Linked DNA regions of Homo sapiens. The protein of the gene in region 1 purifies or fractionates together with the protein of each later gene. This does not show direct contact. Each region holds a gene or a part of one and is shown on either strand. Other genes may lie near its edges. The genes, in order: HDAC1, ARID4B, CTNNB1, PHF12, ING2, MIER3 and DNTTIP1.

Region 1 (4,976 bases):
ACCCAGAGAACTATCGTTCACTGCGCACGTACAACACGCCAGACACTGCGCTACATGCGTTAAATACCCGAGATCATTCATCTTCACACAAGCTTCTGAGGTAAGATTTGGTCCCATCTTATAAGTAGGGAAACAAGGCCTGGCACAGTGGCTCACACCTGTAATCCCAGCACTTCGGGAGGCTAAGGCAGGAGGACCACTTGAGGCCAGGAGTTCAAGACCAGCCTGGGCAACATGGAGAAACCCCATCTCTACCAAAAACATAAAAATTAGCCAGGTGTGGTGGCAGCTGCCTGTAATCCCGGCTACTTGGGAGGCTGAGGCACAAGAACCACTTGAACCCGGGAGGCAGAGGTTGCAGTGAGCTGAGATCGCGCAACTGCACTCCAGCCTGGGCGAGACAAGAGTGAGACCCTGTCTCAAAAAAATAAATAAATAAATAAGTAGGGAAACAGGTTCAGAGAGGTGAGCTGTTAGTAAATGGCAGAAGCAGTATGCAAGCCTCAAGCTTTGGTTTGTCTGTTTTTTTTTTGAGACGGAGTTTTGCTCTTGTTGCCCAGGCTGGAGTATAGTGAAGTGATCTTGGCTCACTGTAATCTCTGCCCTCCAGTTTCAAGCCATTCTCCTGCCTCAGCCTCCCGAGTAGCTGGGATTACAGGTACCTGCCACCACACCTGGCTGATTTCCGCATTCTTAGTAGAGACGGGGTTTCACCATGTTGGCCAGGCTGGTCTCAAACTCCTGACCCTGTGATCCGCCCGCCTCGGCCTCCCAAAGTGCTGGGATTACAGGCATAAGCCACCGTGCCCAGCCAGCCTGTCTGTCTTAAAAGCCTGTGAAAATATATCCCGGCCCTTTTCCAAGTCCTTTCACATATACAACCTCATTTGATCCTCACAACAACTCTATGAGCTGGACAAGCCAGATATCAACCCCACTGTGCGGAGGAACAAACAGATACCGAGAAGTTAAGTGATTTGCCCAAGGTTATAAAACCAGGCAGTAGCAGAACCAGAATCAGGGTCCCGGTGTCTTGACTCCCGTAGCCCAGTGTCTTACTGCTACATTCACAGTGACAAGTGGAGTAAAGTTATTTCGGGCCTAATGGGGTAAAAGTACCAAGTAGTACATAATGTGGAAACATATGCAAACAATAAGGCAAATGAAATGAAAACAGGAAGGAAAGCACACCTGGAGGCTGTAGACTCACAGACCTAGAGGAACTTTATAGCTCCAAATCTCCTCTTACAGAAAAGGTAACTACTGGCCGGGCGCGGTGGCTCACACCTGTAATCCCAGCACTTTGGGAGGCCAAGGCAGGTGGATCACTTGAGGTCACGAGTTCAAGACTAGCCTGGCCAACATGGAGAAACCCCGTCTCTACTAAAAATACAAAAATTAGCCAGGCATGTGCCTGTAATCCCAGCTACTCAGGAGGCTGAGGCAGGAGAATCACTTGAACCCAAAACGTGGAGGTTGCAGTGAGCCAAGATTGCACCCCTGCATTCCAGCCTGGGTGACAGGGCGAGACTCCATCTCAGGAGAAAAAAAAAAAAAAAGTAACTGCTGAGACATCAATGAGCTACAGGAAGTCAGAGGCAGGAGGTGTGGGGCTGCATACTTATTCTCTTGCCCAGCCTTCTACTGTACCCACTGTTATCAAGATTTCCAAAAGTAGAGGAAGGAGCAGCCCTGGGGTGAGAGCAGAAGAGCTCAGTTTGGATTGTGCTGGTAAAATCTCAAGACACAGTTGAAGCTCAAGATCTACAATAACCACAAGAGTTACCAGCTCTGGTTCTGCACTAAACTTGGAGGGTGCCAAGATCCGGTGCTCTGAGGAAGAAGCATGGCTGCATGAGGGAGTGTGCAGCGGGTGGGTCTCTTCCTCACTTCCTGGGTAAACACTGGGAGGCTGTGTAAATAAGAACTTTGGTCCCTGGGCCCCGGCTGTTTATCCATTGGCAACTGATTTCCCTCTCTGGCCACTTCCTCCTGCACAGAGTTTGGCCTGCCTGCGTTTCCAAAGCTTTGTTTATACTCTTATTTGGGATATGGAGCCTCCATGGGAAGGAATGGGTGTTTTGGACGTGAGAAAAAAAAAAATATTTTTCTTCAGGCACCAAACCAACATGTAGCTCAAATGACCAGCCCTTTTATTCCTAGTCAATAAGCTATGTGATTAGAGATGGAAAGGGGGCAAATGGAAGAGCAGATACTCATGTGAGCTAATCTGTGAGGGTAGGGAAGACTTTTCCATGGGTTTTCTCTCTTTCTGCTATAAACGCTTTTCTCATTCTCACACTAGCTTTAGACTAAAGGGAAGCAATACTGGGTGAGAGGTGGAAGCAGACGTAGGCAGAGAAGGCAGTCAAATGCTCATTGCAAAGAGATGGGAAGATTAAACACTAACCTCAGGATAGTGCTTATACCTTGGCAGTGCTGGTAATGGGGTGGGGGGCTGGGGGAGTGGGAGAGAAAGGGTATGTGATCAAGGAAAGATGCCCAAGGGGGCATCAACTGTATTGATAATGTTTTCTTTCTCAGGCTGGGTATTGGGCACACATGGATGTTCATTATATTATTATTATTATTTTTTTTTTTTTGAGACAGAGTCTTGCTCTGTTGCCCAGCCTGGAGTGCAGTGGCGCAATGTCAGCTCACTGCAAGCTCCGCCTCCTGGGTTCACACCATTCTCCTGCCTCAGCCTCCCAAGTAGCTGGGACTACAGGCACCCACCACCACACCCGGCTAATTTTTTGTATTTTTAGTAGAGATGGGGTTTCACTGTGTTAGCCAGGATGGTCTTGATCTCCTGACCTCGTGATCTGCCCGCCTCGGCCTCCCAAAGTGCATTATATTATTTTTTGATGCTTTTTGTGTGTGTCTAAAATATGTTTTTTTCTTTTTCTGTTTTTTTTTTTTTTTTTTTTTTTTGAGATGGAGTCTTGCTCTGTCGCCCAGGCTGGAGTGCAGTGGCGCGATCTTGGCTCACTGCAACCTCTGCCCTCCAGGTTCAAACAATTCTCATGCCTCAGCCTCCCGAGTAGCTGGGATTACAGGCATATACCACCACACATGGCTAATTTTTGTACTTTTGGTGGAGACAGGGTTTCACCACGCTGGCCAGGCTGGTCTCAAACTCCTGGCCTCAAGTGATCCACCTGCCTCAGCCTCCCAAAGTGCTGGGATTACAGGCATGAGCTACCCTGCCTGGCCTGTGTATCTAAAATATTTTATATACACTATATTTTTTAAAACTACAGAATTGGGGGACTAGAGTTCCATTCTGCATTCTACCATCACCTTGCTGTGTGACTGGGAAAGTTTACATGTCTGTAAAATGGATGAGAATGTCTCCCAATTTTTTACCAATCCCTTTTATCATGTTTTCACCAAAAGCCCCCTAAATGCATTTATTTGTGTTCCCATTTTCACTTGCTAAATATTAGGTCAGAACTTCTGGTCAAGGCTCTCAAAGTGACCAGAAAGGGTTTATTACATTTCAGCCACAAGCAAGGAAACCTGATTTACTCGATCTTATCATAAGCATAACTTCCTAGATTAGGTGTGTGGGATGTTTTTGTGTGTGTGTGGGTTTTTTTTTTTTTCTTTTTGAGAAGGAGTCTCGCTCTGTCGCCCAAGCTGGAGTACAGTGGCGTGATCTCGGCTCACTGCAAGCTCCGCCTGTCGGGTTCACACCATTCTGGTGCCTCAGCCTCCCGAGTAGCTGGGACCACAAGCGCCTGCCACCACGTCCGGCTAATTTTTTGTAAATTTTTAGTGGAGACGGGGTTTCACCGTGTTAGCCAGGATGGTGTCTCGATGTACTGACCTCGTGATCCGCCCACCTCGGCCTCCCAAAGTGCTGGGATTACAGGCATGAGCCACCACGCCTGGCCATGTGTGTTTTTTTTTTATTGAGACGAGTTCTTGCTATGTTGCCCAGGCTGGAGTGTGGTGGCGAAATGAGACCATACCTCAATGCAGCCCTGAACTGGGCTCAAGGGATCCTCCTGCCTCAGGCTCCTGAGTAGCCAGAATCACAGGCATGTGCCACCATACACAACTAATTTTTTATTTTTATTTTTTTAAGATAAAATAAGAGATGGGGGTCTCACTATGCTGCCCAGGCTGGTCTTGAACTCCTGGCCTCAAGCTATCCCTCCTGCCTTGCCCTTCAAAGCACTGGCATTACAGGTGCATGCTACCATGTCCAGCGCCTAGGTTAGATATTGGTACATATTCTAAAAGGGCAAGTTAAGGATTAAGGAATTTGAGGCTGCAGTGAGCTATGATCTTGCCACTGTACTGTACCCTGGATGACAAAGCAAGACCCCATCTCTAAAAACAAGAATAAAAATAAAAATAATTCTTTTTTTAAAAAGGGCTCATTACTGTCTTGGTAGATACCCCAGGTTATAAAGCACTGTGTTAAGTGACATCTAAAGTCTCTGTCTACTCTGACCCTCCATAACCCTACAAATCAACTCAGTGAGGTACTCTGAAGTTCTTAGAGAGGCTTATTCTTCCTGCCCCCATTTCTGATGACAGAAAAATCCAAGACCTAATTATTTTAATTAGAAAAATTTTTTTTAGAGACCAGGTCTCACTATATTACCCAGACTGGCCTTGAACTCCTGGGCTCAAGAAATCTTCCTGCTTCAGCCTCCTAAGTAGCTGAGACTATAGGCACCCAGACTGAATTTTTTTTTTTTGAGACGGAGTCTCGCTCTGTCGCCCAGGCTGGAGTGCAGTGGCGCGATCTTGGCTCACTGCAACCTCTGCCTCCTGGGTTCAAGCAATTCTCCTGCCTCAGCCTCCTGAGTAGCTGGAATTACAGGCATGTACCACCAAACCAAGCTAATTTTTGTATTTTTAGTAGAGATGGGGTTTCACTATGTTGGCCAGGCTGGTCTCAAACTCCCGACCCCAGGTGATCTGCTTGCCTCAGCCTCCCAAACTGCTGGGATTACAGG
Region 2 (2,389 bases), about 200 Mb from region 1:
TAAAAGAATGCCTAGGCTGGGTGTGTTGGCTCCCGCCTGTAATCCCAGCACATTGGGAGGCCAAGGTGGGTGGATCACATGAGGTCAGGAGTTTGAGACCAGCCTGACCAGTACGGTGAAACCCCGTCTCTGCTAAAAATACAAAAATTAGCCAGGAGTGCTGGCAGATGTCTATAATCCCAGCTACTCGGAAGGCTGAAGCTGGAGAATTGCTTGAACCCGGGAGATAGAGGTTGCAGTGAGCTGGAGATTGCGCCACTGCACTCTAGCCTGGGTGACAGAGCAAGACTCCGTGTCCAAAAAAAAAAAAAAAAAAAAGAATGCCTAATACATTCCTTATCTGATTAATGGACTTTTAATTTTCATAGGTAGAATCTTCCTTTTTTTGTGTATCAATTAATCCCCTGTGATAATACGTGCTGGATATGTATGTTCCAGTCAGTCATCACATACAGAAATGAACTAAAATTACTAAATCTTTTAGAAACAAAAATCAAGGATTCACAAACTATGGCATTTTATTTCAGAGCCTTTGCTTACATTTGTACAATATATTACATAATTCTTCATTGTTTGCAGATCCTAATATATACTTTATAGCTTTTATTCTATAAGCTTTTTTCTTCAACATTTTGCTGTCAACAAATCTTTACAGTCCTGTACAAATTTGAATAACTTGAAACCATTTTCAACAAAATTAGTTACTGTAAGCACACACTACAAGACTGAAAATGCTTTTCTTAGAAAAGTTGAATGTAAAGGATTCTGACACGTTAGCATCTACAACAAAACGCATTGAAATTCCCACGTCGTATTGCCAGGAAACAAAGAAAACATGCCAGCCCCATCCAAAAAAAGTACACAGAACTACAATTAAAACAGTAAAACAGTCTGTACAATAAAGTACTGTGTATTAACAGTGCCAGATATTAAATAGCTTGAATGAACACATCCACAATATACAAATGTCTTACAAAGGTGAAGAATTAAATACAAGTGCCAAACAGAACAGAGATTGGAATCATACAACATAAAGTCAATACAAGTGAAAACAATTTTGCATTCATTTTGGATTTTATACAAGGCATTTAATTTTATAGGCCTACCACCCCCATTAGCTATTTATATTTAAAATAACCACCATCCTTTTGAGACAGTTCCTATCAACAATCTTGAACCATACTAATACATTACTTGTTCCTGAAGTCCTTTTGTTGTAGCTCATAATAAAATAAGCAATACAAATGAATTATCTGTATTTAAGGGAAAAGAAACATTTACAAGAAAACACAAAAATATAACTGTTATAATTCATTATGAATAAATATACACTTTGAACTGGCTAAGTACAATCTTTATACATTGTTTAAGATTTAATACAGTTTATTAGCCATTTTCTTTTTTCACACAATGTATATCAAAATTAAAAAAAAATACTGATTTATAGAAAAATGGCAAAGTACAGTAGTTCCATTCCAATTTGAAGGGCCATGAAAAGCCACTGCAAGACCTTTTAGCCTAATTCAAACCTGTAAACATGTTCAGTCTTTTTTAAAGAGAATCTTTAATATTTGGTTACCAGGATTGATGTCTAATATCCTGTTAACTGCAGGTTTTGAATTTATTACATGTGCTTGACTTATACAATTAAAGCCACCCTAAGGTGACTTGCTTTAAAAAACAATTACCTTGTACAAATGAAAATAGGTTCATATTTTTTCATAAATAAATGGAAAAATATCAAATGTTCCAGCTTTAACAAAATACAAGGGAATACATATACAGTAAGTTATCTTAACATGTTCTGACCCACCCCTTAACTATGCTTACTGTATTGTCTCTACAGGCAGTGAAAAGCCTCCATTTGCCACAGTGGAAGGCCTTCCAGTTACCAGACACACAATTCCCAGACAAGTTGGAAACAATTATTGCTTGAGGAAAAGCAGTTCATTGTACTTTTTCTTCATAAAAAAGTGCACTTAAGTGCCAAGTCAGCTTGTCAAGAAACAATTTTTAAATATAAAATAGTGCTTGTCTGATATTTTTTTGTGCCACTGTGCAGTATAAAAAAAAAGTGGCCCTCAACAGCCATTAAGTGCAAAGTGCTTTAGCAAGTCCTGCTGTCACCTGCACTCAACTGACATTCCATTTTGTGATGCGCTGGACATTGACGGTTCAGCTAAAGTTAACATAACAGCAGCTGTTATGGAACTGGATGAAGGTGAAGAGGAGGATGAGGATGTAGCAGCACCTAAGGAAAAGGGAGACCAAACCAAGAGCTTAATAAAAATTTATGTCTAACAATAGACAGAAAATACTAGTCCTCTGAACTAAAATTCCGCTATATTGTCCAAAATCATTTAGCTTACAACAACAGTGGTCAATTCTC
Region 3 (4,976 bases), on another chromosome or scaffold:
AAAATTCCCACCACACTAAATCTATTGGTATCAACTAAAAGTAGTTCTGACTACACAAACATTTCAGAATCTTACCCCTATCGCAGCCATACTTCCTACTTACTAAGGAATACAATTCCTACTTATTGATCACTATGCTTAGACAGCCATCCAACAGCTAGAGATGCTTCATTTTCAATTCTGCAACAAAGGTAAATTCTACTTTGACAATTTACCTTTATCAGAGGCCAGTGGGATGGTGGGTGTAAGAGCTTAACCACAACTGGTAGTCCATAGTGAAGGCGAACTGCATTCTGGGCCATCTCTGCTTCTTGGTGTCGGCTGGTCAGATGACGAAGAGCACAGATGGCAGGCTCAGTGATGTCTTCCCTGTCACCAGCCCGAAGGACAGTACGCACAAGAGCCTCTATACCACCCACTTGGCAGACCATCATCTTGTTCTTATAATTATTGCAAGTGAGGTTAGAAAGAATTCCAGCTGCACAGGTGACCACATTTATATCATCTGAACCCAGAAGCTGAACAAGAGTCCCAAGGAGACCTTCCATCCCTTCCTATGGAGATAAAAACAGATGGTCAGTACAAGCACATACTCATCTTGACTCTATTCCCATGGCACCAGTTTACTCAGAATTTACCTGTTTAGTTGCAGCATCTGAAAGATTCCTGAGAGTCCAAAGACAGTTCTGAACAAGACGTTGACTTGGATCTGTCAGGTGAAGTCCTAAAGCTTGCATTCCACCTAGAAAATTAAAAAGGATATAAGGCCCTAGTCATTAGCTAGAAGTGCCTATCAATCCTAAATATCTGTTCTAGCCTTAGGAGGTGTCCTTCTGTATTTCCAGAGTTTACTTCCTTTCACCTAAGTATTTGATTTCCTCTCATTTTCTAGAATGTTGCTCAGTTTCCTTCACTTTGCCAGTTCACCTCACTAGTGACAAACTCTCAAATAGCTACTGTTCCTTTCCTAAGCCGAAAAAGCCTTTGTTATCTCCACTGTCCCCCTTAGGTAATATTCTTATTACTCATTTCTTTTCATCCATTCAATCATTTCAAAAATATTTATTCAGTACCAGGTCCTGTTCTGAGCTGCAGATAGACCAGTGAACAAAAATATTCAGAAGTTCCTACCCTCAGAATTTATGATCTAGTTGGAAGAGGCAGAAAAATATACAATAAACTAAAACCATACAGTATGTCAGATGATATTAAAGGGCTATGGAGAAAAATAATGGAGTGGGGCTGCGATTTTAAATAGATAATTAGGTCACCTCACTGTGAAGGTGACATCTGACTAAAGACCTAAAGAAGCTAGGTAAATTCCTGGGGTAAGAACAATCCAGAAAGACGGCATGAAAACACTTACTGTCAGGGACTTTATACAATTCACTGACTACAAAACATGTGTTCCAAGGTTTACAATCTTCCATCCTTTAGGACCCTTAAATGGGGGACATTTACTCTGGCAAAGGAGTATAAATGGAAGCCCAATGCCCACATAGTAGATTAACTTCGCTCATCCATCTTCAACTTAAATCACTTCTGAATGCAGTAAGAGATACTTTTCCTTGTCTCCTTCATCTTTCGGGTCTGTTTTATTTCCTCAGATGAGGTCTATCTGCTGTAATTCTTATGGTACCCTGCACTTCTCCTTCATAGTGTAAGTTACTCCACTTTCCCTACAAGACAAAGATCACCTCTGTTGGGTTCCTTTTTCATAGTAGCTCCAGCTACTAATAGAATGATCTGCGTAAGACTGATGATCAGGATGCTCAGTATTTGTGAAATGACTACCTTCTTTCCCCTCTTTAAGACTTCATTCCCTCCCTTTACATAACTATTAACTCTAAGAGAATGGATTTTAACCCCAGATGTCCATCAGAATGGCCTACAGAGACTTTAAAACACACACATTCTGATTCAGCAGTTCTAGGGTAAAAAAAAAAGTCCCATACAGATGACTCTGTGGCACCTCTACCTCCCCTTCCCTGCTGCCCTTACCCCTATATACTAAGAGGGAAACTTCCAAATCTCTAGCCTGCCTCTCTTGCATTCTAGTATCATACATTTCCAGCTACCTACTGACCTTTTAAGTCACTTTAAGTCAGCTTCTTAAATTATTATGTTCAAAAATTAAGGATGCCTTCTGAGGGTTCCATTTATCTTCATGGTACCAATGTTGTCCCCTCCACAAACCGTTTTTGGTTGCTCCCTTAGCTCCTATATTATTACATTCTATGATTCTTTCAGGCATCTCAGACATCTGCCCTTTGCTATTGAGTTCTAAAAGCAAACTATTTCATTCCTAAAAGCCTGTAACATCTCAGTAGTCTGGTCTTCTAGCTTTTGGTCATTCAAACTGTTAATCTATACAATGCTATTATTAATATTTTAAACACACCACTGTGATGCTTTGCTATTGATAAACAACCATCGAAAGTGTCTCAGCATCCTTTTAAGATAATAGAAATACTTTAGTATAACCCTGAGGAACCGTTTAGAATTTGGATCCCACCTAGCCTTCCAAACTGACCAAAGTATTCTGTATCTATGGCTCCAAAGCTGGAATAAAGCATGAATAAACTCCATGAGTAGTAACTATCTTATAGGAACCTAGAAAGTCCTGCATGTTATGGCTCTGCTTACCTAACCTCAACCTCATACCAGGCCATCCACCTCATTACTAAGTTCTGTTTATGCAGACCTTCTCTTCAGCACCTGGATCTCCACAATCTCTTTCCCTTTTTTTTTTTTTTGAGATAGAGTCTCACTCTGTCGCCCAGGCTGAAGTGCAGTGGCGCTATCTCAGCTCACTGCAAGCTCCGCCTCCCGGGTTCACACCATTCTCCTGCCTCAGCCTCCCAAGTAGCTGGGACTACAGGCGCCTGCCACCACGCCCGGCTAACTTTTTGTATTTTTAGTAGAGATGGGGTTTCACTGTGTTAGCCAGGCTGGTCTCGATCTCCTGACCTCATGATCCGCCCACCTCAGCCTCCCAAAGTGCTGGAATTACAGGCGTGAGCCACCGTGCCTGACCAATCTCTTTCCTTCTAAGGCAAGCTTGTCCAACCTGCAGCCCATGGGCCACATGGCCTAGGACAGCTCTGAATGTAGCCCAACACAAATTCGTAAACTTTCTTAAACATTATGAGATTCTTTTGCAATTTTTTTTTGTTTTAGCTCATCAGCTATCATTAGTGTATTTGGTGTGTAGCCCAAGACAATTATTCTTCTTCCAATGTGGCCCAGGGAAGCCAAAAGACTGGATATCCCTGGTTCTAAGACATAGCACATGGTGTTCCTTTTCTCTACCTGGAAAACGTTTAACCCTCACTTCTCATATAGACAAGAGACGGTTCCCTCTCATCCTGCAGTCCCACTTAACATCCCCTTTTCAAGGAGACCTTTTCCCTCTCATCTAGACAATTCCCCTCCCCATTAATTCTCATCACTATTTGCTGTCATTTCTCCCATAACACTCATTCTAATTTAGGATCACATATTTTTAAGTATTTTTGTCACCTTCACAAGACTAAGAATTAAGCACGGGGACCCTATCTGTTGTGTTACCCAATGTATACTATGTGCCTATTCCATTTCTTAAAATACATTAGATGCTATTTTCAGAATAAACAAATGAACATAAGAATAACCTGGAAGAACTTAAAGATTCCTAAGCTTCCAGTCCCATACATGTCCAGCTATCTACAGACCTCCCTGTCACTTCAAATAAAACACTATGAGATCTTGATATAAAAATTAACACTCCAGGGATTCTGATTAAATAAATCTCAAAATCTGTATTTTTAGCCTACATTACAGGTTACTGCTGGAACAGCTGACAGAATTTACATCCCATCCCCTCATTCTATATGAACTCAGCCACATTTGTCTATCCCCAAGACTATGGTTCCTCTGCCAGTAGTTACCTGGAGCAATCATAATGTCTTTCTCTCTCATAAATTCCCAAGTAAAATTACTCTCAATAAGTGAGAAAAGTAAGTGTTGCCAGCCCTATACTTTATTCCCAACATTTTCTTCCATTAAATGCCTTTATATTTTTCCTTCTTTCAATACTGATTTGAAGCTTGCTTTGAAATTCTGAGTAAATGTTGTTAGGTGGGTTACTGAAAGGAGAAAAAATGCTTGGTAGCTAAAAAGTAACTGTTTTCATGACACACACACACACACACACACACACACACAGAACCCAAGAGGCCCTAGTACAAACCATCTATTCTTTTCCCCAATTGCCAACATACACAATATACAAAGTACCACATATAAGTTGCCTTCTTAAAAATACTCAGAATAGAAAAAAATTGTTTCTCATACTTAGACGACATCTATTCACTGAGAATACAGAATATCAGGGCAAAACACTGCTCATAATCAGGCAAGAGAAAGAAAATGCATCCAAATAGGAAGTCTGTTTGCAAACAATATGATTCTATACCTAGAAAACCCCATAATCTCTGCCCAAAAGCTCCTTGATCCAATAAACTTCAGCAAAGTTTCAGGATATAAAAATCAATGTACAAAAGTCAGAAGCATTTCTAGACACCAACAACATCCAAGCTGCAAGCCAAATCAAGAATGCAATCCCATTTACCAAAGCCACAAAAAGAATAAAATACCTAGGAATACAACTAACCAGGGAGGTGAAAGATCTCTACAATGAGAATTACAAAAAACACTGCTCAAAGAAATCAGAGATGACACCAACAAATGAAAAAACATTCTATTTCATGGCAGGAAGAATCAATATTGTTAAAATGGCCATACAGCCCAAAGCAATTCACAGATTCAATGCTATTCCTACCAAACTACCAATGGCATTCTTCACATAATTAAAAAAAAACTATTTAAAAATTCATATGAACCCAAAAAAGAGCCTGAATAGCCAAGGCAATCCTAAGCAAAAAGAACAAAACTGGAGGAATCACTTTACCCAACTTCAAGCTATACTGTTAATA
Region 4 (4,976 bases), on another chromosome or scaffold:
GGCCCCACCTGCTATTTCCATTTCTGAGCCTCCTTTTCCTCAGCAGACCCCAGAGTGGATGGTCCCTTGAGCACCAGCACCACAGACAGAACAGCATACCAGGGCAGAATCAACTAGACATGTTGGAACTATCTCCCTCTCCTTCCTCCTTCTATCTATCCTGAACAGGTTCCTGATGCTATAAAATCTCAGTACCAGTTTCCACCCCCTCTCATTGCACCCGCGGCCATTCGGGACGGGGAGCTGATCTGCAATGGGATCCCTGAGGAATCACAGATGCACCTTTTGAACTCTGAGCACTTAGCCACCCAAGCAGAGCAGCAAGAGGTGAGTGAAGGTGGGGCGGGGATTCCAAATCCAACCTTCCTTCTGTGTCACCACAGCTGTTATCAGAAGTAGCCTCAGTGTCATTCTCATTCCAGTCCCCACCCACCCTCATCCTAACCCCTCAAGAGTTGAGTATTCCAGGGGGAACTTCTGGCTCAAATCCCAAAGGCAAGTAAGAGATCTACAAAGGCAACTGGTCTGCTTCTCTCCATCGTTACCCCAGTGCACTGTGAGATGGGCAAATCTATACTGTAGAAAGAGATGAGTAGACCCATAGAGAGGTTAGGTGATAGTGCTGGACATACCACAGGTGCTCGGGGTAATTGCTGAATATTGGTCACAAGTAAGCCTTAAAGGCAGAGTCAAAATGCAGATCCCAAGCTCTGTTGGCCAGAGGGAGTGTTGGCCTGCTGAGGGTACCTATAAGTCTTGCTTGGGAATGGAAATGGAATTCTATCAGGAGTCAAGCACACCCTTTGTGAGCATTCATGATGGGACCTCGGAAACTGCTTGTCAGCTCTGCTGCAGCCCTGGCCACTGTGGCAGGAAGGACCGGCGCCTCTCAGGCTTCTCACCCCCCTCTCCTCTCCTTCCATTGCAGTGGCTCTGTAGTGTTGTTGCGCTCCAGTGCAGCATATTGAAACATTTATCTGCTAAGCAGATGCCTTCGCATTGGGACTCTGAACAGACAGAGAAGGCTGATATTAAGCCTGTTATTGTGACTGACAGCTCAGTCACCACCTCCCTGCAAACAGCTGACAAGACACCTACACCTTCCCACTACCCCTTGTCCTGCCCCTCAGGGATTAGCACCCAGAATTCCCTGAGCTGCTCTCCACCCCACCAGTCCCCAGCCCTAGAGGACATCGGCTGCAGTTCTTGTGCGGAAAAATCCAAGAAAACCCCTTGTGGGACTGCCAATGGGCCAGTGAACACAGAGGTGAAAGCTAATGGCCCACACCTCTACAGCAGCCCTACTGATTCCACGGACCCCCGGCGACTTCCAGGCGCTAACACCCCACTACCAGGCCTCTCACACCGGCAAGGCTGGCCCCGGCCCCTCACGCCACCAGCGGCTGGGGGCCTTCAGAACCACACCGTCGGCATCATTGTGAAGACAGAGAATGCCACTGGCCCCAGCTCTTGCCCCCAGAGGAGTTTGGTTCCTGTCCCAAGCCTGCCCCCTTCCATTCCCAGCTCTTGTGCCAGCATCGAGAACACCAGCACTTTGCAAAGAAAGACTGTCCAATCACAGATAGGACCTCCGTTGACAGATTCAAGGCCACTGGGCTCACCCCCAAACGCCACCCGGGTGCTCACTCCCCCGCAAGCAGCAGGAGATGGTATCTTGGCCACAACAGCCAACCAACGATTCAGCTCACCAGCGCCATCGTCAGGTGAGTGCTGCTCAGCCTTGGGTTGATTTGGAATAATTTTATGCTCTTTCTGGCAAATAAGATTCTAAAAGCACTTATATCCCTGTGAATACTTCAGAGGACTTTGGCCTTTGTATTGTTTGTCTTACTCTCATTTCCGTAATAGAAGAGGAAGCACATGTTAACTTGTCCCGTTTATAAATGGGACTGCTTAGGCTCTGAAAGCTTCAGTGATTTCCTTAAAATGACCTACTGAGTCAGTGGCAGGATTGGAACCACAGCCCAGGTCTCCTGACTCCATCCCATACCTTCCAGGCCTAGGCCTCTGCCTGTTTTGTTCTGTCACCTTAAAAGAAGGCAGGGTGCTCTCTGGAATTACTATGATCAGCCTGAGGTTCTGCGTGATGGCCTCAGTATTGTCAGATCCACACAAAAGAATGGATTCATGCCTGATGCATATTCTCAGAAAGAGTTAATCTGATGAACTTCCATGTCAGGAAGCAGGGCTAGACAGCAGCACTGTCTTTCAGAGGAGCTGTAGAGTGGGATGCCCACAGGGATTGTTCTAGCCCAGAAGCGTGCCCTCAGGCCACATGCCAAAGGGCGGTCCTTCAGGTCTGTACTTGGCCTACTGTGGACCTGCTCTCTCAGCTGTCCCCAGAGAGCACTCAGGACCTTGAAGTTGCTGACCCCAGCATCTGAACCAGGTTTCAGATGCTGCCGGAACCCTCTGTGGTCTCTCCCGTCTGAACTGAAGCCGGCCTCCTAGTCAGCTGGGAGTCTCGGTAACCAGATGATTGTGATTTCTCTGCATGGGAGCCCCTGGTCCCAGGATGGCCCCGCTCCCAGGCTGTTTTCCTATCTCTGTTTATCGCTTAAAACCAGCGTGGGTAGATTCTCCACGCCGTGAGTCATATTTCAGTAGGCAAGAATTATAAGGGCAGGCACTACTTATTTTAAAGTAGAGGCAGCAGGGAGGTGGTCATGGCCCAAAGAATGAAGCTGCCCCACCACTTTCCCCAGAGCAGTGGATTTCAGTGGTTCTCAGTGCTCTGGAGACTCCTGCGTGCCTGGGTGCTTTGTCGTTCCATCTGCCCTTCCTCACCACACGTTTTTAGCTCTAGGAGTTCCAGAGCCTATGGGTTGAGAATCAAGAAGGGAACATCACCTTGGGTCCGAAATCCAGACCTGTCTCAGCAGTGGGGGATTGGACGGTGGGTTTCCCTCAGGCGACGTAAGTAACAGTCTTCCTGCTCCGTCCCCAGATGGCAAGGTCAGCCCCGGCACGTTATCCATAGGAAGCGCTTTAACCGTACCCTCTTTCCCAGCCAACTCTACTGCCATGGTGGACCTCACCAACTCACTTCGAGCATTTATGGATGTCAATGGAGGTGAGTGAATGAGCTGCTGCTGTTCCACCGTTTGCTATGTTGAAGGTGCTATTCCTATACAGCATTCAGCTCATTTCAGAAAGGGAGGGAAGGGACACCTGATCCCAGAGGCCTAGGGGGAGATGGGAATGAGGAGTATCCTTTTGGATGGGGGGGCGGGGTGAAAAAGAAAGCTCCTTCTGTAGCTCTGCCTTCTACATGTGCATATACACATAATCAAAGATGAAGGGAGGACAGAGCCAAGCTGAACCAGTGAGACGAGAACAAAATCACTTTAGGCAGATCACCTGGATTTGCAGAATAAAACTAAGATCCTCACTCCCAAAGGAGGGACCTCATCTGTGGGAAACCCCCAAAGTCCAGGAGAACAGGGACAGATCTTGATCTCTGTGAACACAAGGTGGGTAGAAAGTTCAAGTCTCAATATCAGACATCCAGGCCCTCCCCCACAGACAGGCAAGTGGTTTATTCCACTCTGCCTTTCTAGGGGCACTTTAATTAAAATCAGTCCACCCAACTACAGGAGGCAGCTGCACAGGCTGCATTGGGGCCCATCTCACTGCAAATGGCAAGTGAGATGCCCAGCTGCAGATCCTTGTACGCTCTGCACTCAATGCTGTTTGAGTAAAAATCACTTGGCTGGATTTTAGAAATGCCAAACTATTTGCTCTGTGACCCTGATTTGCTTCCACATTCCACTTCCCATCTCAGCTGCTTTTTAATCTTTCTCTTTGGCTAATAGAAATCGAGATAAATATGCTGGACGAGAAGCTGATCAAGTTTCTGGCCTTGCAGAGAATACATCAGCTTTTCCCCTCCCGGGTCCAACCTTCACCGGGCAGTGTCGGGACACATCAGCTGGCTTCTGGAGGGCACCACATAGAAGGTGCGCATGTACACACCTGTCACCACATCATCAGATCTCCCCTCTACGTGTGCGAATGGTCACCTTGCCTCCATGGAGAATCTGAGCTTCCAGTATCTCAAACCTCCTTGTGTGCTTTTCATGGGCTTAATAAAGCACCATGGTTTTTTTCTGAAGAGAGCAGGAACAAGATGGCAACCACAGCTTTCTGATCAGACTTGGGGAAGTCTGCTGTAACTTTCTTTCATATATAAGTCCACTTCGAGACACAGCAAAGCAGCTACCAGTACCTTTGGGTATATGTAGTGTACTTTCTGCTTACTTGCTTTCAAATATTTGAATTAGAAGGGCTTCCCGACTGAGTGCAGTGGCTCACACCTGTAATCCCAGCACTTTGGGAGGCTGAGGCGGGAGGATCACTTGAGCCCAGGAGTTGGAGACCAGCCTGGGCAACACAGTGAGACCCTATCTCTACAAATAATTTTAAACTTACCCAGGCATGGTGGCATACACCTGTAATCCCAGCTGCTTGGAAGGCTAAGATGGGAGGATCGCTTGAGTCTGGGAGGTCAAGGCTGCAGTGAGCTATGATTGTGCCACTGCACTCCAGCCTGGGTGACAGAGTGAGACCCTGTCTCCAAATAAATAAGTAAATAAATAAATAAAATTTTAAAAAGAATGGCTTCCCAAGAGGGAACTTTTCAAGTTCAAGTTGAGAAATAGAATAACACTAGGCCAACCTTCTGGAAATTTTCCCCAAGTGGTTAACTCTGTTTCAGATATGTCTGAGCATTGGCCATTAAGAGCCTTGCTGCTTCAAAGTGTGGTTCGCAGACCAGCAGCATCAGCAGCCCCTGAGAGCTTGTTAGAAATGCAGAGCTCAATGCATTGGTTTTTTGCCTATTTTTAAAGAAAACAGCAAAAGAAATGCAGAGCTAAGGCCCCTCCTCAGACCTATTGAATCAGAATCTGCATTTCAACAAGATCTGTAGGCGATTCTTATGCACATTAAAGTTT
Region 5 (3,912 bases), on another chromosome or scaffold:
TTTTTGCATTTTTAGTAGAGACAGGGTTTCACTATCTTGGCCAGGTTGGTCTTGAACTCCTGACCTCAGGTGATCCACCTGCCTCGGCTTCCCAAAGTGCTGGGATTACAGGCGTGAGCCACCGCGCCCAGCCTCTTTTTAATATAGATTAATGAGTATTAGTTTTGTGTTCTTTCTTTTCATTACTTTATTTCTAACTATACTTTCATATTAGATAATGTGGTCTTTGTATGAAATAGTTTTTAATGTATATGTACCAAAGAGGAGTATGGTTTCATGGTTTGAGTTCTAATTTCAATTCTGTAAAAAATAACTACCTTGGAAATGTTGTGTCTGCTAACACATGATAACGTTCTCATTTTTCTTTTCCTTTTTTTAGAAACGTTAAAGGAAATTGATGATGTCTACGAAAAATATAAGAAAGAAGATGATTTAAACCAGAAGAAACGTCTACAGCAGCTTCTCCAGAGAGCACTAATTAATAGTCAAGAATTGGGAGATGAAAAAATACAGATTGTTACACAAATGCTCGAATTGGTGGAAAATCGGGCAAGACAAATGGAGTTACACTCACAGTGTTTCCAAGATCCTGCTGAAAGTGAACGAGCCTCAGATAAAGCAAAGATGGATTCCAGCCAACCAGAAAGATCTTCAAGAAGACCCCGCAGGCAGCGGACCAGTGAAAGCCGTGATTTATGTCACATGGCAAATGGGATTGAAGACTGTGATGATCAGCCACCTAAAGAAAAGAAATCCAAGTCAGCAAAGAAAAAGAAACGCTCCAAGGCCAAGCAGGAAAGGGAAGCTTCACCTGTTGAGTTTGCAATAGATCCTAATGAACCTACATACTGCTTATGCAACCAAGTGTCTTATGGGGAGATGATAGGATGTGACAATGAACAGTGTCCAATTGAATGGTTTCACTTTTCATGTGTTTCACTTACCTATAAACCAAAGGGGAAATGGTATTGCCCAAAGTGCAGGGGAGATAATGAGAAAACAATGGACAAAAGTACTGAAAAGACAAAAAAGGATAGAAGATCGAGGTAGTAAAGGCCATCCACATTTTAAAGGGTTATTTGTCTTTTATATAATTCGTTTGCTTTCAGAAAATGTTTTAGGGTAAATGCATAAGACTATGCAATAATTTTTAATCATTAGTATTAATGGTGTATTAAAAGTTGTTGTACTTTGTCTGTGACCTTAATTTTCTGCACTGAGTTACCAAATATTTCCAACCAGGTAGTCTTCAGATCACCTGATGAAAGGAGCAGGGAACAGGAAGAGGGTGGTGTAAACATTATAAAAATTTCACAAACCATGCCTATTTCATTTTCACTTAAAACTGCAATGTTATTTTTTGGGTAAACACAAAAGTTTCACTAGCATTTTAGTTATACATGCTTAAAAAAATGTTAGATGTAGTGGGATTTCTCTTAAGCATCAAATGATCTTGGGTACTTTAAAATACAGACACTATGCCATTTGAGCTGCTTTTTCCCTAGTCCTATTTATACGTTGGCTTGTTCATCTCTAGTCTTCTAGGAGTTTAAGGAACTGGAGATAAGAGTAATTTGGGATTCCATGTGGAATAATGTGCTCTTATGAGAGTACGTGCTGCTGTCTTTTGCTTAGTAGCATTTTGATCCACTGTCAGTAGCCCATTTGTCAATGCCTTGCTGCTGCTTTGTAGATATACTTAGTCTAGTGCTTAATAAGGGAGTTGTTTTGTGTTTTCTTTTAATTGGGACAGGTAAGAGTAGTTAGCATACCAAAAATATACATTGGCTTACATTGGCAAACTTTGGGTTATATAGTATCACGGCTCAAGGTTGAACAATTTAAAAATACATCTTAATTAATAGTATTTTCCATGTGACCTGCTGCCAGGATGCGTAGCCACAGGCCTATCAGTGGAAAGGGGCATATAGTAGTCTTTAAATATTGCCTTTATGTCAGAGAGTTGTTTTAAATGGTTTTGCTAGTGGTTATTGTTCATTTCTGTCCCAATCAGTGACTATTTTAAATAATAGTGTATTTACTGTCTTAACTTCTAGTATTGGTGCTGTTTGATGTTTTCACATTTAATTAACTTATTTCATCATCATAATGCAATTAATGTATTTGTAAATTGAATTTTCCAAGATTCTGATATTTGAAGGGTAAGCATCTTGATGGATATATGTCCATATGTTTAGAGAAGGTTTTGGTTTTGGGGGCAGCAGATTGACTAGTTCTTTAAATCTGTGTGTAACGTATGTTTTATTCCTCATTTCTTCCTAATCTGATGATCTTGATTCTTTTTGATTAACATGAAAAATCCTGTCTGCTTGTTTTGGGAAAAAAAAATGCTTTTTTTCTCTTCTAGCTCTCCTGTGTGACTTTTAGGCATGTCATTTCACCTTGTCTGGGTGTCAGGTCATTCACCTGTAAAATGAGTTGGCTTAAATATCTCCGAGATTCCTTGGAAATTTCTACTATTTGCACTATAGTGAGGATTTTAATAATGACATGACTTCTCTTTTCATTAATTTTGTCCTTCATTCTGAGGTATAAAGATAGTTTAAAGGTGAGTTTGGAGATGGGTAAATGTGCAATATTTGTTAGCTTCTGTCCTAAGAATATTTGGATTCATGACTAGAGCTAGTTGATTCTATTACCTTTTGAGTGAGAAATGTTAGACAGCATGATTAAGAATTTAGCAAATCCTTTCTCATCACCATAACTTAGCTGAGTTGTAAGGAAATCCTTTTGAGAATATGGCATTTTGTTTTAGTGATTACAACCTTGTTACCAGAATGGAGCTTTTTACTTGACACCATTAAAAATATCAGTATGGACAAAACCCCCAAAGCCTTCAGATGCGACTTACATAGAAGTCACCACTTTTTCATACGTAAATCTGCCTTGGCAGATGGGAGAAAAGAAACGACTTCCTAATAGAAATGCCAAAGTTTGGATTAGACTTGACGGGAAAACGAACCTGGAAAATCCTGGAAGGTGTGCTCTCTTTAAGACCTAATATCTGAAACAGTTTTATGACTTTTTTGTTTTGTTTTCTACACATCTTGGAAATAGAAGTCTTAAGCATGCGTAGCATTAGGACTGGAATTTCTTTTGTTGAGTATTCTGGATCTCATATCATGGTTACCAACTCATACTGTATACACCAGTGGTTCCCAAACTTAACGTTGGAATTACCTGGGAGTTTCAACAAATACTGATATCTGTGCCCCACCCTCAGCAATTGTGATCTAAATTCATTTGGAATGTGGCTTAAGCATTAGAATTTTTAAAAGATCCCCATTATAATATATGGAAATGTTTTGGAACCACTGCCACATTTCACAGTTTTCAACTTATTGAAAGCTGCTGTGGATTATCTACATCCAGATTTATGCAAATCTGAAGCAGATACAGATGCTTATACACACATGAGAGTATCTCCTGCCCCCAGTGGCTCCACCACCAGTGCCTGAATACTCAACATCTGAGTGCTAATTAATGTGCCAGGCACCGTTTTAAGCAGTTGTGGTGTAAAAAGGAAATATCCCTGCTTGTGGACGATACATTCTAGTGGAGGAGTCAGATACATAAAATGTCAGGTAAATTGCTAAAGTGAAAGGAAAACTGAGTAAAGGGCTGGAAATGAATGGAAGGGGGGGTGGCAAGTCTTTTATTTATGGTAATTTAAAAAGGTGTCCCTAAGGAAGTAATCCTTAGAGCTAAGAGCAGAAATAAGGCAGGCAAAGATTTGAGGGAGGGAGGAGGGAACAAGCTTGGCAGGTTGACTAAAGCAGGGCATTAGAGCACAGTGTACAAGGGGCTGGGAACTGGGGACTCTTGGAAGCCATGGTAGGAAACTTGGGAAGCCATTGAGGGGTTTGAGCCATGGTCTGACATAAAGGTCAC
Region 6 (4,976 bases), on another chromosome or scaffold:
GCTGGCACATCTGAACATCATCAGCTATGTTTTGCTTCCCCTGGGATAACTGTCTTTTAACACTTTGAAAGCAGTTTAGGAAAACGGTGTTCCTAGTGGCTGCCATGGCTAACAACCCCAGGGTAACCACTCCTCCCCTCCTTTAAATGGAGGATGACCTGGCATGGAGGAAAGGAAAAAAGAAGGACTCAGGAAGTATTGTGTTGGGTGCTGCTTTTGCCCTTGTGACTTCACAAGGATAAATCAACTTAGGGAAAAGGCCAAACACCCATGGAAATATTCCCAAGTTCAACTAAGAAGGTTTACCTATATTTTTATATCCTACTACCTTATCCCCTCCATATTTTGAAAACCAACTACAGTTGGAATGCACCAAAAACATGAGGAAAAACTGATTACACATAATTAGGAGTATACAAGTGAAAGCAGATCCTTACATTTCACTTCCTGCTCTTTTGGGGCTGGGGAAGGAGAATTTCTTCCAGTCTCTTTTTCCCTCAAGAGTTTTCTTTCCAGAAGATTATATCTTAACATTCTCATTATCTCAGGTGATGAGATCCTACCCACTTCTACTGAAGCAGGATGAAGGCCAAGGTACAGCACCGTGGGAGGCTCCCCATTATTCGAACAGGCACTGAGCACACTGGCTAATAAGCACTATGTGTGCCTTGGGCAGGGTTGGGGGTGGGGGGAAACTCTGAGTCTAGTGATTAACTTTGATACATTTTTCCTAAGTCAGGCCTAAAAATCCTAACTCTGCATGTTTCCCAAATCTATCTATCTATTGCCAAGGCTGGTATAAAGCCAGATATTTAAATACACTTATCAAGTGGTAACCTTATCTACCAAACATTATCAAAATCAAAAGCTTTCCTTACCTTTCTCATTACCATCGTACTCTCCAAGATAAGGGGGAATCTCTGCCTGATATTGTAAACCAATCATTATTTCCTACAGGAAAATTGAGAGGTAAAAATAACTTATTAAAAAAAAAATACTGAAAAAAAGCCCCATATCATTAATCAGTTTCTACAAGTCAAAACAACAAAATTATCATAAATCATTTCAGAAATATTTTTAAAAGCCAATTTAGTCCACTATATTAACTCAGCTTACCTTCCTCAAATCTTCAGGTGAATTACCACTGTCTGTTTCAACATCTTCAACCTCTGATTCCTTATCACCATCACATGCAGTATTTGCTTAAAAGACAAAAATTAAAAAGGTTTTTACTGCCTATTTTTGCAGAACCTGGAAGAATGCCTGTTGTATTTTACAAAATGTTGTTAAATATGTGAGATCAGCATAAGTATACTAAACCACCTGCATGTTTCTCACAATCGACATTGGTCAAAATGAGACACTGAAAATCCTAATAAAGTGTATAGTATCCTGGCCGGTGCAGTGGCTCTCATGGCTGTAATCCTAGCACTTTGGGAGGCTGAGGTGGGTGGATCGCTTGAGGTCAGGAGTTTAAGACCAGCCTGGCCGACAGGCTCTACTAAAAATACAAAAAAATTAGCCGGGCGTGGTGGGGGGTGCCTGTCATCCCAGCTACTCGGGAGGCTGAGGCAGGAGAATCGCCTGAACCTGGGAGGCAAAGGTGGCAGTAAGCCAAGATCACGCCATTGCACTCCAGCCTGGGCAACAGAGTGAGACTCCATCTCAAAAAAAAAAGTGTATAGTATCCTGATAATTATTATGGTATACTATTAAATAGTTTGGGAGGTAAAAGGAAACCACTGTGGTCACCTTAAAAAGAAAGTAAAACACTGGAGTTCTGATTATACTAATCCAGGAGATACACACACAGAGTTGCATATCAGGTCCATCAAAACTGTTTTTGTACACACACGAATGCATGGATATTTGAACTTATTGACCAAACAGTTCTTCTATCATAAAAATACCTAAAAAAAAAAAGTGAGATTGCATCTAAGAAATTATTTTAGTCCAAACATTTTATTTATTTATTTTTAGAAACAGGGTCTCACTCTGTCACCCAGGCTGGAGAGCAGTAGCCTGTTCATGGCTCCCTGTGACCTCAAAGTCCTGAGCTTCAGTGATCCTCCTACCTCAGCCTCCCAGATAGCTGGGACTACATGTGCATGCCACTATGCCCAGCTAAGTTTTTTATTTGAAAATTTTTTTGTAGAGACAGGGTCTTGCTATGTTACCCAGGGTGGTCTAGAACTCCTGGCCTAAAGTGATCCTCTCATCTCAGCCTCCCAAAGTGTTGCAACCACACAACCAACCCCAAAACCTTTTAAATATTACTGATAAACATTAAGAGGTAACACCAAGAACTAATAGGAAAAAGATGAATCATTAAAAGTAAAAATACCTTTTGAGCACTGATAAGTTTTCAAAACCAGGAGAGCAGGAGCCTTTTAATAGAAATTCAAATAAAGGTCTATAAAATTTTGTGGTCAAACTAAGAATGATTACCATAGCAACAGATGAGTCTTGAGAAGGAAAATGGCCTTGTAAAAATAAAGTCAATATTTCCATTTTTATTTTATCTTATTATTATTATTATTATTGAGACAGAATCTCTCTCTGTCACCCAGGCTGCAGTGCAGTAGCATGATCTCCAGCTGGCTGCAACCTTCACCCCCAAGGTTCAAGTGATTCTCGTGCCTCAGCCTCCCAAGTAGCTGGGATTACAAGTGCATGCCACCACACCTGGCTAATTTTTTGTATTTCTAGTAAAGAACAGGTTTCACCATGTTGGCTAGGCTGGTCTCAAACTCCTGGCCTCAAGTGATCTGTCTGCCTCGGCCTCCCAAAGTGCTGGGATTACAGGTGTGAGCCACTGCACCTGGCCAAATATTTCAATTTTTAAATGGCATATTAGTTCACCTCTATCCCAAAAGAAAGGTTATAATCTTGTTTAAATTATAGAAGTATTTTATCTCAACCACATAAAATATTAGAATATTCTGACACAAATTACTGAACACAATAAAATGTACTAAAGCTACAGTATCAATGTTACTATTTATCAGTAATCCACTGGGTTTCTTACATCGTAAAGGCCTAGGGAAGAAATCAGAAGTTTCATGGGAAGTCACAGATGGCGTCAGATCATCCGCAGAAGACTGAGTTTCCTCGTCATCACCTGACAACAGGTCTTTTGCTATTTCCTCCTGGAAGAATAAGAAGGCAGTGCTACAGTTAGAAATGATTACATCTCATTAATTAAGAAAACTATCTTTTTATAACATATCATTAAGAAGCAGTTGGAACCTTATGAGAGAAATATGAAATTCTCCTATGATTTACTTCATGTACATAAATATTTAATATTATATATTATATAATATTCAATAATATACTATTAAATGATAATCAGTGCAACCATATACTAAAACAATTGCCTAATTTGTGGGTATGCAGAGAGCTTATCTAAAGCTGTAGGCTAATTTTTAGTGAATTTACAACAAAAACAGTCTGACTTTTAAGTGGTTAACAATTATATTCATTTTCTGTCAATAATAAAACTGAAAAAATGCCTCCAACCTCCACTCTTCCAATAATTTAAAAGTCCGACTAATGAACAGCACTGACTACTGACATAATTTTAAAAGAAACAAGTTTGAATTAATTTTTATGTAAGTATACAGTCATCCTTGTGCCTAGCACAAAGTAGCCACTCAATAAATACTTGTTGAATGACTATGGTCATTAAGGTCTGTGGTACATTAATATCACATTGACTTAAAAGTGGGAACAATATAACTCACAGGAAGAGGTTCCAAGATGTGGATTCCTCTCCCTGCCTGAGATCTGAAAGGCAAGGAAAGGTTCCCAGGGATCTGTTAGCAGAGGCCATGGCCGTGTGAATTTTCCTCAGCAGGGACTAGGCCTCCCCACAACCAGCCTACGTTAGAGATGGATCACCGCGGTCTTGGCTGCTGCGGCCGCTGTCACTCCCAGAGCCAAGAAAACAGAACTTCTCTCCAACCACTCCACGCCTAAGCCAGCTTGGTTTGAAGGCTTCTGGGGGATTTATTAATCAAGGCTTTTATGTGTTTATAGGATCAAAAGAAGTTAAGGCAAAATCTAAGTTTAGATACAATGTGTCTACACAGGAAAGATGAAAACATTATGGGAGAATATTCAGGCATGCAAAGTACCATGAAGCTGCTATTAATACTACTCTTAACATAGGGTGATCAAAGCCAAACAAAGTTTAAATCAGCCACCAAAATAAGCACAATGGGTCAACAAGAAGTTTACATTTAAGAATTATTAAATAATACTTTAAATGGAAGTAAAAGCAGTCAATGGTAACAGACCCTGAATTTTTCTTTCAAATGCTCACACTTACTTTGTCTAGTGTCATGTCTGGTAGTTCATCTGCCAGTTCACTTGGGGAACTATTTGCACTGGAATTTGCAACTGCTGGAATTGTAGGTTCATAGCCATAGAATGCCAGTAAATCTTCTAGAGGCATGGTTCCTTCCTGTTCAAGCCAGGGCATAAACACGGACTCAGCAGATGTCACAATACTGAACTGCAGGTAAACTGTACTGTCCTTAGGTTCAGAAAGCACATTATCAAAACAGCAGAACAAATCAAAGGCAAGTTTCAGTTTTTCTTTTTGTGCTGTTGTCAGAAAACAGGACCAAACACCTGGAGCTATAATTAATGTATAAACAACAGCCTAACAATTAACACCTTAGTTTTTATTTTCTAGAAGCATTTTACTATTTTAAAAATTCCTCAAATATTTGCTTTAGTGCCTTTTTTTTTGCTTTCAAGTTAACATAAAGATTTGCCCTGAAAACATTTCCAATTAATCAATCAATAACTTGTAATTCACAGCTTCTTTCCTTGCATTTAACAGCTGACCACTTGCTTTATTCTTCATGTTAATTAGAAGACACCTGGTAGAAAACCTTTGCTGAATGTTTACTAACATCAGCAATATTTATGTTCAAAGAACAATTATCCTTTTATATTCTTACTAC
Region 7 (4,976 bases), on another chromosome or scaffold:
GTGTTTCTCTCTCCAGCCCCATCAGCTGCCACTCCCTAATTTGTACTCTCTCTGTTAGCAGCACAGAATTACTAGTAGTTTCTCCAGCAGGCCAAGCTGCCTCTCACCTGTCTTTGCTCATGCTGCCCCCTGTCTGGAATGCCCTTGTTCCTGACCCCCTTTACCCCAACTTGTGCTCACCCTTTCAGAATTAACTTGGGAAATGCCTCTCTAAGGAAGCCTTCCTGGCTGGACCCTCCCCTCGGCAGCCCTCAGACCCTGCACTCACTTGTGTCCTTGCCTCATCGCACAATGGTGTAATTATCTGTACATATGTTGGTGGCATCCTAGAAAACAGAGACTGTATCTTATTCATCTCTTTATCCCCAGTATCTAGCACAGACAGGGCCTAGCATATTGTGAGTACTCAGTGTCTTGGGTCAACTGTTGATTAAATAATAGACAAGGGGAAGGGTTAGAAAAGGGTAGGGGGAGGAGTGTTTCTGTCCTACCCATCAGATTAAACTTCACCCTCACGAGCTTCTCTATTTTTTGCACAGTGGGACCCAGCTCGCCTGAATGAATCTACCACCTTTGTGTTGGGATCTCGAGCCAACAAGTAAGTTTAAGAGCTTTGGCACTGATTGAGGAAACAGCTCAGGAGTTCACTAGTAGGACTACACTTTCTGGAATCTTGACCACTTGGCTTTTACTTTTCAGAGCCCTGGGGATGGGGGGCACCAGAGGAAGAATCTACATCAAGCACCCACACCTCTTTAAGGTAGGTGACTGCTGGGAGGAAAGCAGGCCATTGCATTGGGAGTAGACTGGGAACTCCACTCAGCACAGAGAAGCTTAGAACAAACACTGATCTTGGAGTCAGGACATCTGGGTTCTAGTTGTGCCTCTGCCATTCACCTTTCCCTTTCATGATTTACTCAACACCTCTGTGCCTCAGTAATAACAGCTACTTTGCTTGCATGCTTACTGGGTGCCAAACACAGTTTTAAATCCCACACTTATATTATCTTAAAAAATAAGTATTGCCATCCTTATTTCACAAATTTGAAACAATCAGAGGTTGAGAAAGGCTGAGTGACTTGCCCACAGTTATTCAGCTAGAAATGGTGAGTCAGGATTCAAATCCAGGTCTGTCCTCACCAAAGCCTGAGCTCTTAACCACTACCATATTTGGTTGTCTGTAAATTAGAGTTTGGGCCAGGTGCGTGAGCTCACACCTGTAATCCCAGCACTTTGGGAGGCCAAGGCGGGTGGATCACCTGAAGTTGGGAGTTCGAGACCAGCCTGACCAACATGGAGAAACCCTGTCTCTACTAAAAATACAAAATTAGCTGGCATGGTGGCTCATGCCTATAATTCCAGCTACTCAGGAGGCTGAGGCAGGAGAATCGCTTGAACCCAGGAGGCGGAGGTTGTGGTGAGCCGAGATCACACTGCCCTCATATTTGCATTTTAAAATAACTCTGGGGTCTGGCACAGTGGCTCACGCCTGTAATCCCAGCACTTTGGGAGGCTGAGGCTGGCGGATCACCTGAAGTCGGGAGTTCGAGACCAGCCTGACCAACATGGAGAAACCCCGTCTCTACTAAAAATACAAAAATTAGCTGGGCATGATGGCGCATGCCTGTTATCCCAGCTATTCAGGAGGCTGAGGCAGGAGAATCGCTTAAACCCAGGAGGCAGAGGTTGCAGTGAGCCAAGATCTCACCATTGCACTCCAGCCTGGGCAACAGAGCAAAACTCCATCTCAAAAAAAAAAAAATAGAGTTTGGAGCAAGGCAGGGTCCTGTGCCTTTTCAAAGAGGGTACTCCTCTTCTGAGAGCAGCTATGTTTTGGTCCCCACTGTTTGAGGGAATAATGGAGGAAATCATAAACTCACTCACCCTCTTAGATGATTTTGTATTTTATCAGTCACGAGAGCATCGAAGTAGATTAGAAGAATAGCAGTGCATGTGTGTTCCACACATGGTTTTTTGCACTTATACGTAAGGCTTGGCACCTCTTGCCAGAACTGCACAGCCCTGTGGGATCCCAGAATCACGGGCTTTCTCTACCACATTCTGTGCAAGTTTTCAAGTTCTTTGAAAGGCATACCTGCTCACGCTTCTTCTCCAGTCTGATATCCTCGAGTCCCAACACTTAAACAGTTTGCCCAGTGGCTCCTTTGTTTTCCTCTCTTAATGTCGTCACTCTTGCTATTCCCATTGCCTGGGTGGCCTTTCTCTCCCACCCTTATCTGCCTGACTATTCTTTAAGATCCACCTCCTCCAAGAGCTTTGTTTGTATCATCCCCAAAATCAATATGCTTTTGGACCTACTTTGAATTCCCACTTCAGCGTGGTTTAAAGTATGGCTTCAGGCCTGGTTCCATTATTTTACTAGCTGCATGAACTTGAACAAATGGCTCCACATTTGTTTTTCTTTTTTCTTTTTTTTTAACTAGCTCAAGTCTGGGAATTGATCCACATTTCTGAGTCTGTTTTTGTCCTGTATAAAATGAGAATAGTGATAGACCAACCATTTTTTTTTTTCTGAGACGGAGTCTTGCTCTGTCACCCAGGCTGGAGTGCAGTGGCGCGATCTCAGCTCACCGCATCCTCCACCTCCTGGGTTCAAGCAATTGTCTGCCTCAGCCTCCCGAGTAGCTGGGATTACAGGTGCCCACCACCATGCCCGGCTAATTTTTGTATTTTTAGTAGAGATGGGGTTTCACCATCTTGGCCAGGCTGCTCTCAAACTCCTGAGCTCAGATGATCCACAGCCTCAGCCTCCCAAAGTGCTGGAATTATAGACTTGAGCCACTGCACCTGGCCCAACTTTACAAATTCTCTATTAGTGATTATAAGTATCTTTTCAGTCATTTAGAATCTATTTGTATTTCTTCTGTAAGCTGCCTGTTATATCTTTTGCCCATTTTTCTCTCCTTCAGAAGGCATTATTCAAATTCTTTTCCTTTTTTAAATGTTTTGATTATAGAAATAATATATAAACCCATTCCCGTGGTAAAAAGATTCAGACGATACACAGGAGGTAGTAGAGAGCAAAACACAGTTTCTCAGCCAGGTGCAGTGACTCACGCCTGTAATCCCAGCACTTTGGGAGCCCGAGGCAGGCGGGTCACCTGAGGTCAGGAGTTCAAGGCCAGCCTGGCCAACATGGTGAAACCCCATCTCTACTAAAAGTACAAAAATTAGCCGGGCATGGTGGTGCACTCCTGTAGTCCTAGCTACTCTACTCGGGAGGCTGAGGCAGGAGAATTGCCTAAACCCAGGAGGCAGAGGTTTCAGTGAGCCGAGATCACGCCACTGCACTCCAACCTGGGCGACAGAGCAATACTCTGTCTCAAAAAATATATATATCAGTTTCTCTTCACTCCTCGATTTTTTTTTTAAGGTGCTTAAATTCTGGTTTCTAGGTGCCCAACCTAGAATAGAAACCAGAATTTAAGCCTTATTTGGGTTGAGCACAGTAGCTCATACCTGTAATCCCAACACTTTGGGAGACTGAGTGGGTGGATCAGTTGAGGCCAGGAGTTCAAAACCAGCCTGGCCAACATGGCAAAACCCCATCTCTACTAAAAATACAAAAATCAGCTGGGTGTGTTGGCACGTGCCTGTAATCCCAGCTATTCAAGGCTGAAGCAGAAGAATAGCTTGAACCCAGGAGGTGGAGGTTGCGGTGAGCCAAGATCATGCCACTGCACTCTAGTCTGAACAACAGAGCGAGACGTCATCTCAATAAATAAATAAACAGCCAGGCACGGTGGCTCACACCTGTAATCCCAGCACTTTGGGAGCCCGAGGTGGGCAGATCACCTGAGGTCGGGAGTTCAAGACCAGCCTGACCAACATGGAGAAATCCCATCTCTACTAAAAATACAAAATTAGCCGGGCGTGGTGGCGCATGCCTGTAGTGCCAGCTACTTGGGAGGCTGAGGCAGGAGAATCGCTTGAACCCAGGAGGCGGAGGTTGTGATGAAGCAAGATCATGCCATTGCACTCCAGCCTGGGCAACAAGAGTGAAACTCCGTCTCAATCGATCAATCAATCAATCAATCAATAAACCAACCAACCTTATTTGTAACTCCAAAACCGAATTCTTAACCATGATGCTATTATGCGTCCGAGAGTACATGAGGTGTCCCGATTTTTGTTTTATTATGGTCACCATAATAATTACAGACGTTATAAGCCACCTCCGATCATTTTTTAAAAAGAGGAAGCTCTAAAATAATAGTTATCAGTCCCACCAGTTGCCCGGGGTGCTTTGTTGTGAGAAGGGGGTGGGGATTGGGAGTATACTAAGTCTCTGGGAATTGGGTCCCATGGTCTGCCCTCGGGGTTGGCTTAGCTTTCTCTGAAGAGATTAGTGAGCCCTCTAAGTCCACCACGCTTGGAGACAAGGACTTTTGGTAAGAACTGCTCAAGGGCCAAGAGTATGCTCTGGGACCAAATGAGAAAAGCCCCTTACCCGAGGCTAATTTTCTTACAACTTCATTCCTTACAGTATGCAGCTGACCCCCAGGATAAGCACTGGCTGGCTGAGCAGCATCACATGCGGGCAACAGGGGGCAAGATGGTAAGCATTATTCATTTGTGCCACTGCCAGTGACCCACCCCACCTGGGAACCAGGATTTTGGCTGTGGGTGACAGCCTACCTCCAAATCTGACTTCCAAAGCCTCACCAATGTGTGAGAAGAGAGACTTATAAGGCCTATTTCTTCATGCTGAAGAGCAAATTGTAATCTTCAGGTTCCCTTCCCTATCCCTAGGTCTCCCTTCCGCCCCCTCACACTTTTACCTCATGCCTCCAAGATCACATATTTGGATACTATTAGCTGTCCATAGGAATAGCAGGTATAAGACACACAGTACTACTTTTTCCCACTACTGCACCCACTGACAGATTTCACTCATTGATCACTCTTCCACCAGACACAGCTATAGAATCTTTTCTCAACACAGTACTTGAGGC

The links.
Region 2: the proteins of HDAC1 (region 1) and ARID4B purify together in Homo sapiens (co-immunoprecipitation; 8 studies listed by BioGRID and IntAct, with this or other methods). This does not show direct contact.
Region 3: the proteins of HDAC1 (region 1) and CTNNB1 purify together in Homo sapiens (affinity purification with western blotting; 6 studies listed by BioGRID and IntAct, with this or other methods). This does not show direct contact.
Region 4: the proteins of HDAC1 (region 1) and PHF12 purify together in Homo sapiens (affinity purification with mass spectrometry; 8 studies listed by BioGRID and IntAct, with this or other methods). This does not show direct contact.
Region 5: the proteins of HDAC1 (region 1) and ING2 purify together in Homo sapiens (affinity purification with mass spectrometry; 8 studies listed by BioGRID and IntAct, with this or other methods). This does not show direct contact.
Region 6: the proteins of HDAC1 (region 1) and MIER3 purify together in Homo sapiens (co-immunoprecipitation; 5 studies listed by BioGRID and IntAct, with this or other methods). This does not show direct contact.
Region 7: the proteins of HDAC1 (region 1) and DNTTIP1 purify together in Homo sapiens (co-immunoprecipitation; 8 studies listed by BioGRID and IntAct, with this or other methods). This does not show direct contact.

Annotation. Positions count from the first base shown.
Region 1 is NC_000001.11:32,318,858-32,323,833, reverse strand, and holds part of HDAC1 (histone deacetylase 1), read right to left. Parts: intron 1-4,976. UniProt on the Homo sapiens protein: Histone deacetylase that catalyzes the deacetylation of lysine residues on the N-terminal part of the core histones (H2A, H2B, H3 and H4).
Region 2 is NC_000001.11:235,166,402-235,168,790, forward strand, and holds the end of ARID4B (AT-rich interactive domain-containing protein 4B), read right to left. Parts: intron 2,252-2,389; coding exon 2,124-2,251; 3' UTR 501-2,123; downstream 1-500. UniProt on the Homo sapiens protein: Acts as a transcriptional repressor. May function in the assembly and/or enzymatic activity of the Sin3A corepressor complex or in mediating interactions between the complex and other regulatory complexes.
Region 3 is NC_000003.12:41,229,107-41,234,082, reverse strand, and holds part of CTNNB1 (catenin beta-1), read right to left. Parts: intron 743-4,976; coding exon 639-742; intron 555-638; coding exon 216-554; intron 1-215. UniProt on the Homo sapiens protein: Key downstream component of the canonical Wnt signaling pathway.
Region 4 is NC_000017.11:28,909,230-28,914,205, reverse strand, and holds part of PHF12 (PHD finger protein 12), read left to right. Parts: intron 1-168; coding exon 169-327; intron 328-928; coding exon 929-1,724; coding exon of another isoform or gene 1,725-1,750; exon of another isoform or gene 1,751-2,062; intron 2,063-2,968; coding exon 2,969-3,094; intron 3,095-3,836; coding exon 3,837-3,980; coding exon of another isoform or gene 3,981-4,171; exon of another isoform or gene 4,172-4,976.
Region 5 is NC_000004.12:183,509,903-183,513,814, forward strand, and holds the end of ING2 (inhibitor of growth protein 2), read left to right. Parts: intron 1-379; coding exon 380-1,050; 3' UTR 1,051-2,527; downstream 2,528-3,912. UniProt on the Homo sapiens protein: Seems to be involved in p53/TP53 activation and p53/TP53-dependent apoptotic pathways, probably by enhancing acetylation of p53/TP53. Component of a mSin3A-like corepressor complex, which is probably involved in deacetylation of nucleosomal histones.
Region 6 is NC_000005.10:56,934,550-56,939,525, forward strand, and holds part of MIER3 (mesoderm induction early response protein 3), read right to left. Parts: intron 4,469-4,976; coding exon 4,334-4,468; intron 3,150-4,333; coding exon 3,029-3,149; intron 1,203-3,028; coding exon 1,117-1,202; intron 952-1,116; coding exon 879-951; intron 1-878.
Region 7 is NC_000020.11:45,804,607-45,809,582, forward strand, and holds part of DNTTIP1 (deoxynucleotidyltransferase terminal-interacting protein 1), read left to right. Parts: intron 1-539; coding exon 540-598; intron 599-699; coding exon 700-760; intron 761-4,507; coding exon 4,508-4,579; intron 4,580-4,976. UniProt on the Homo sapiens protein: Increases DNTT terminal deoxynucleotidyltransferase activity (in vitro). Also acts as a transcriptional regulator, binding to the consensus sequence 5'-GNTGCATG-3' following an AT-tract.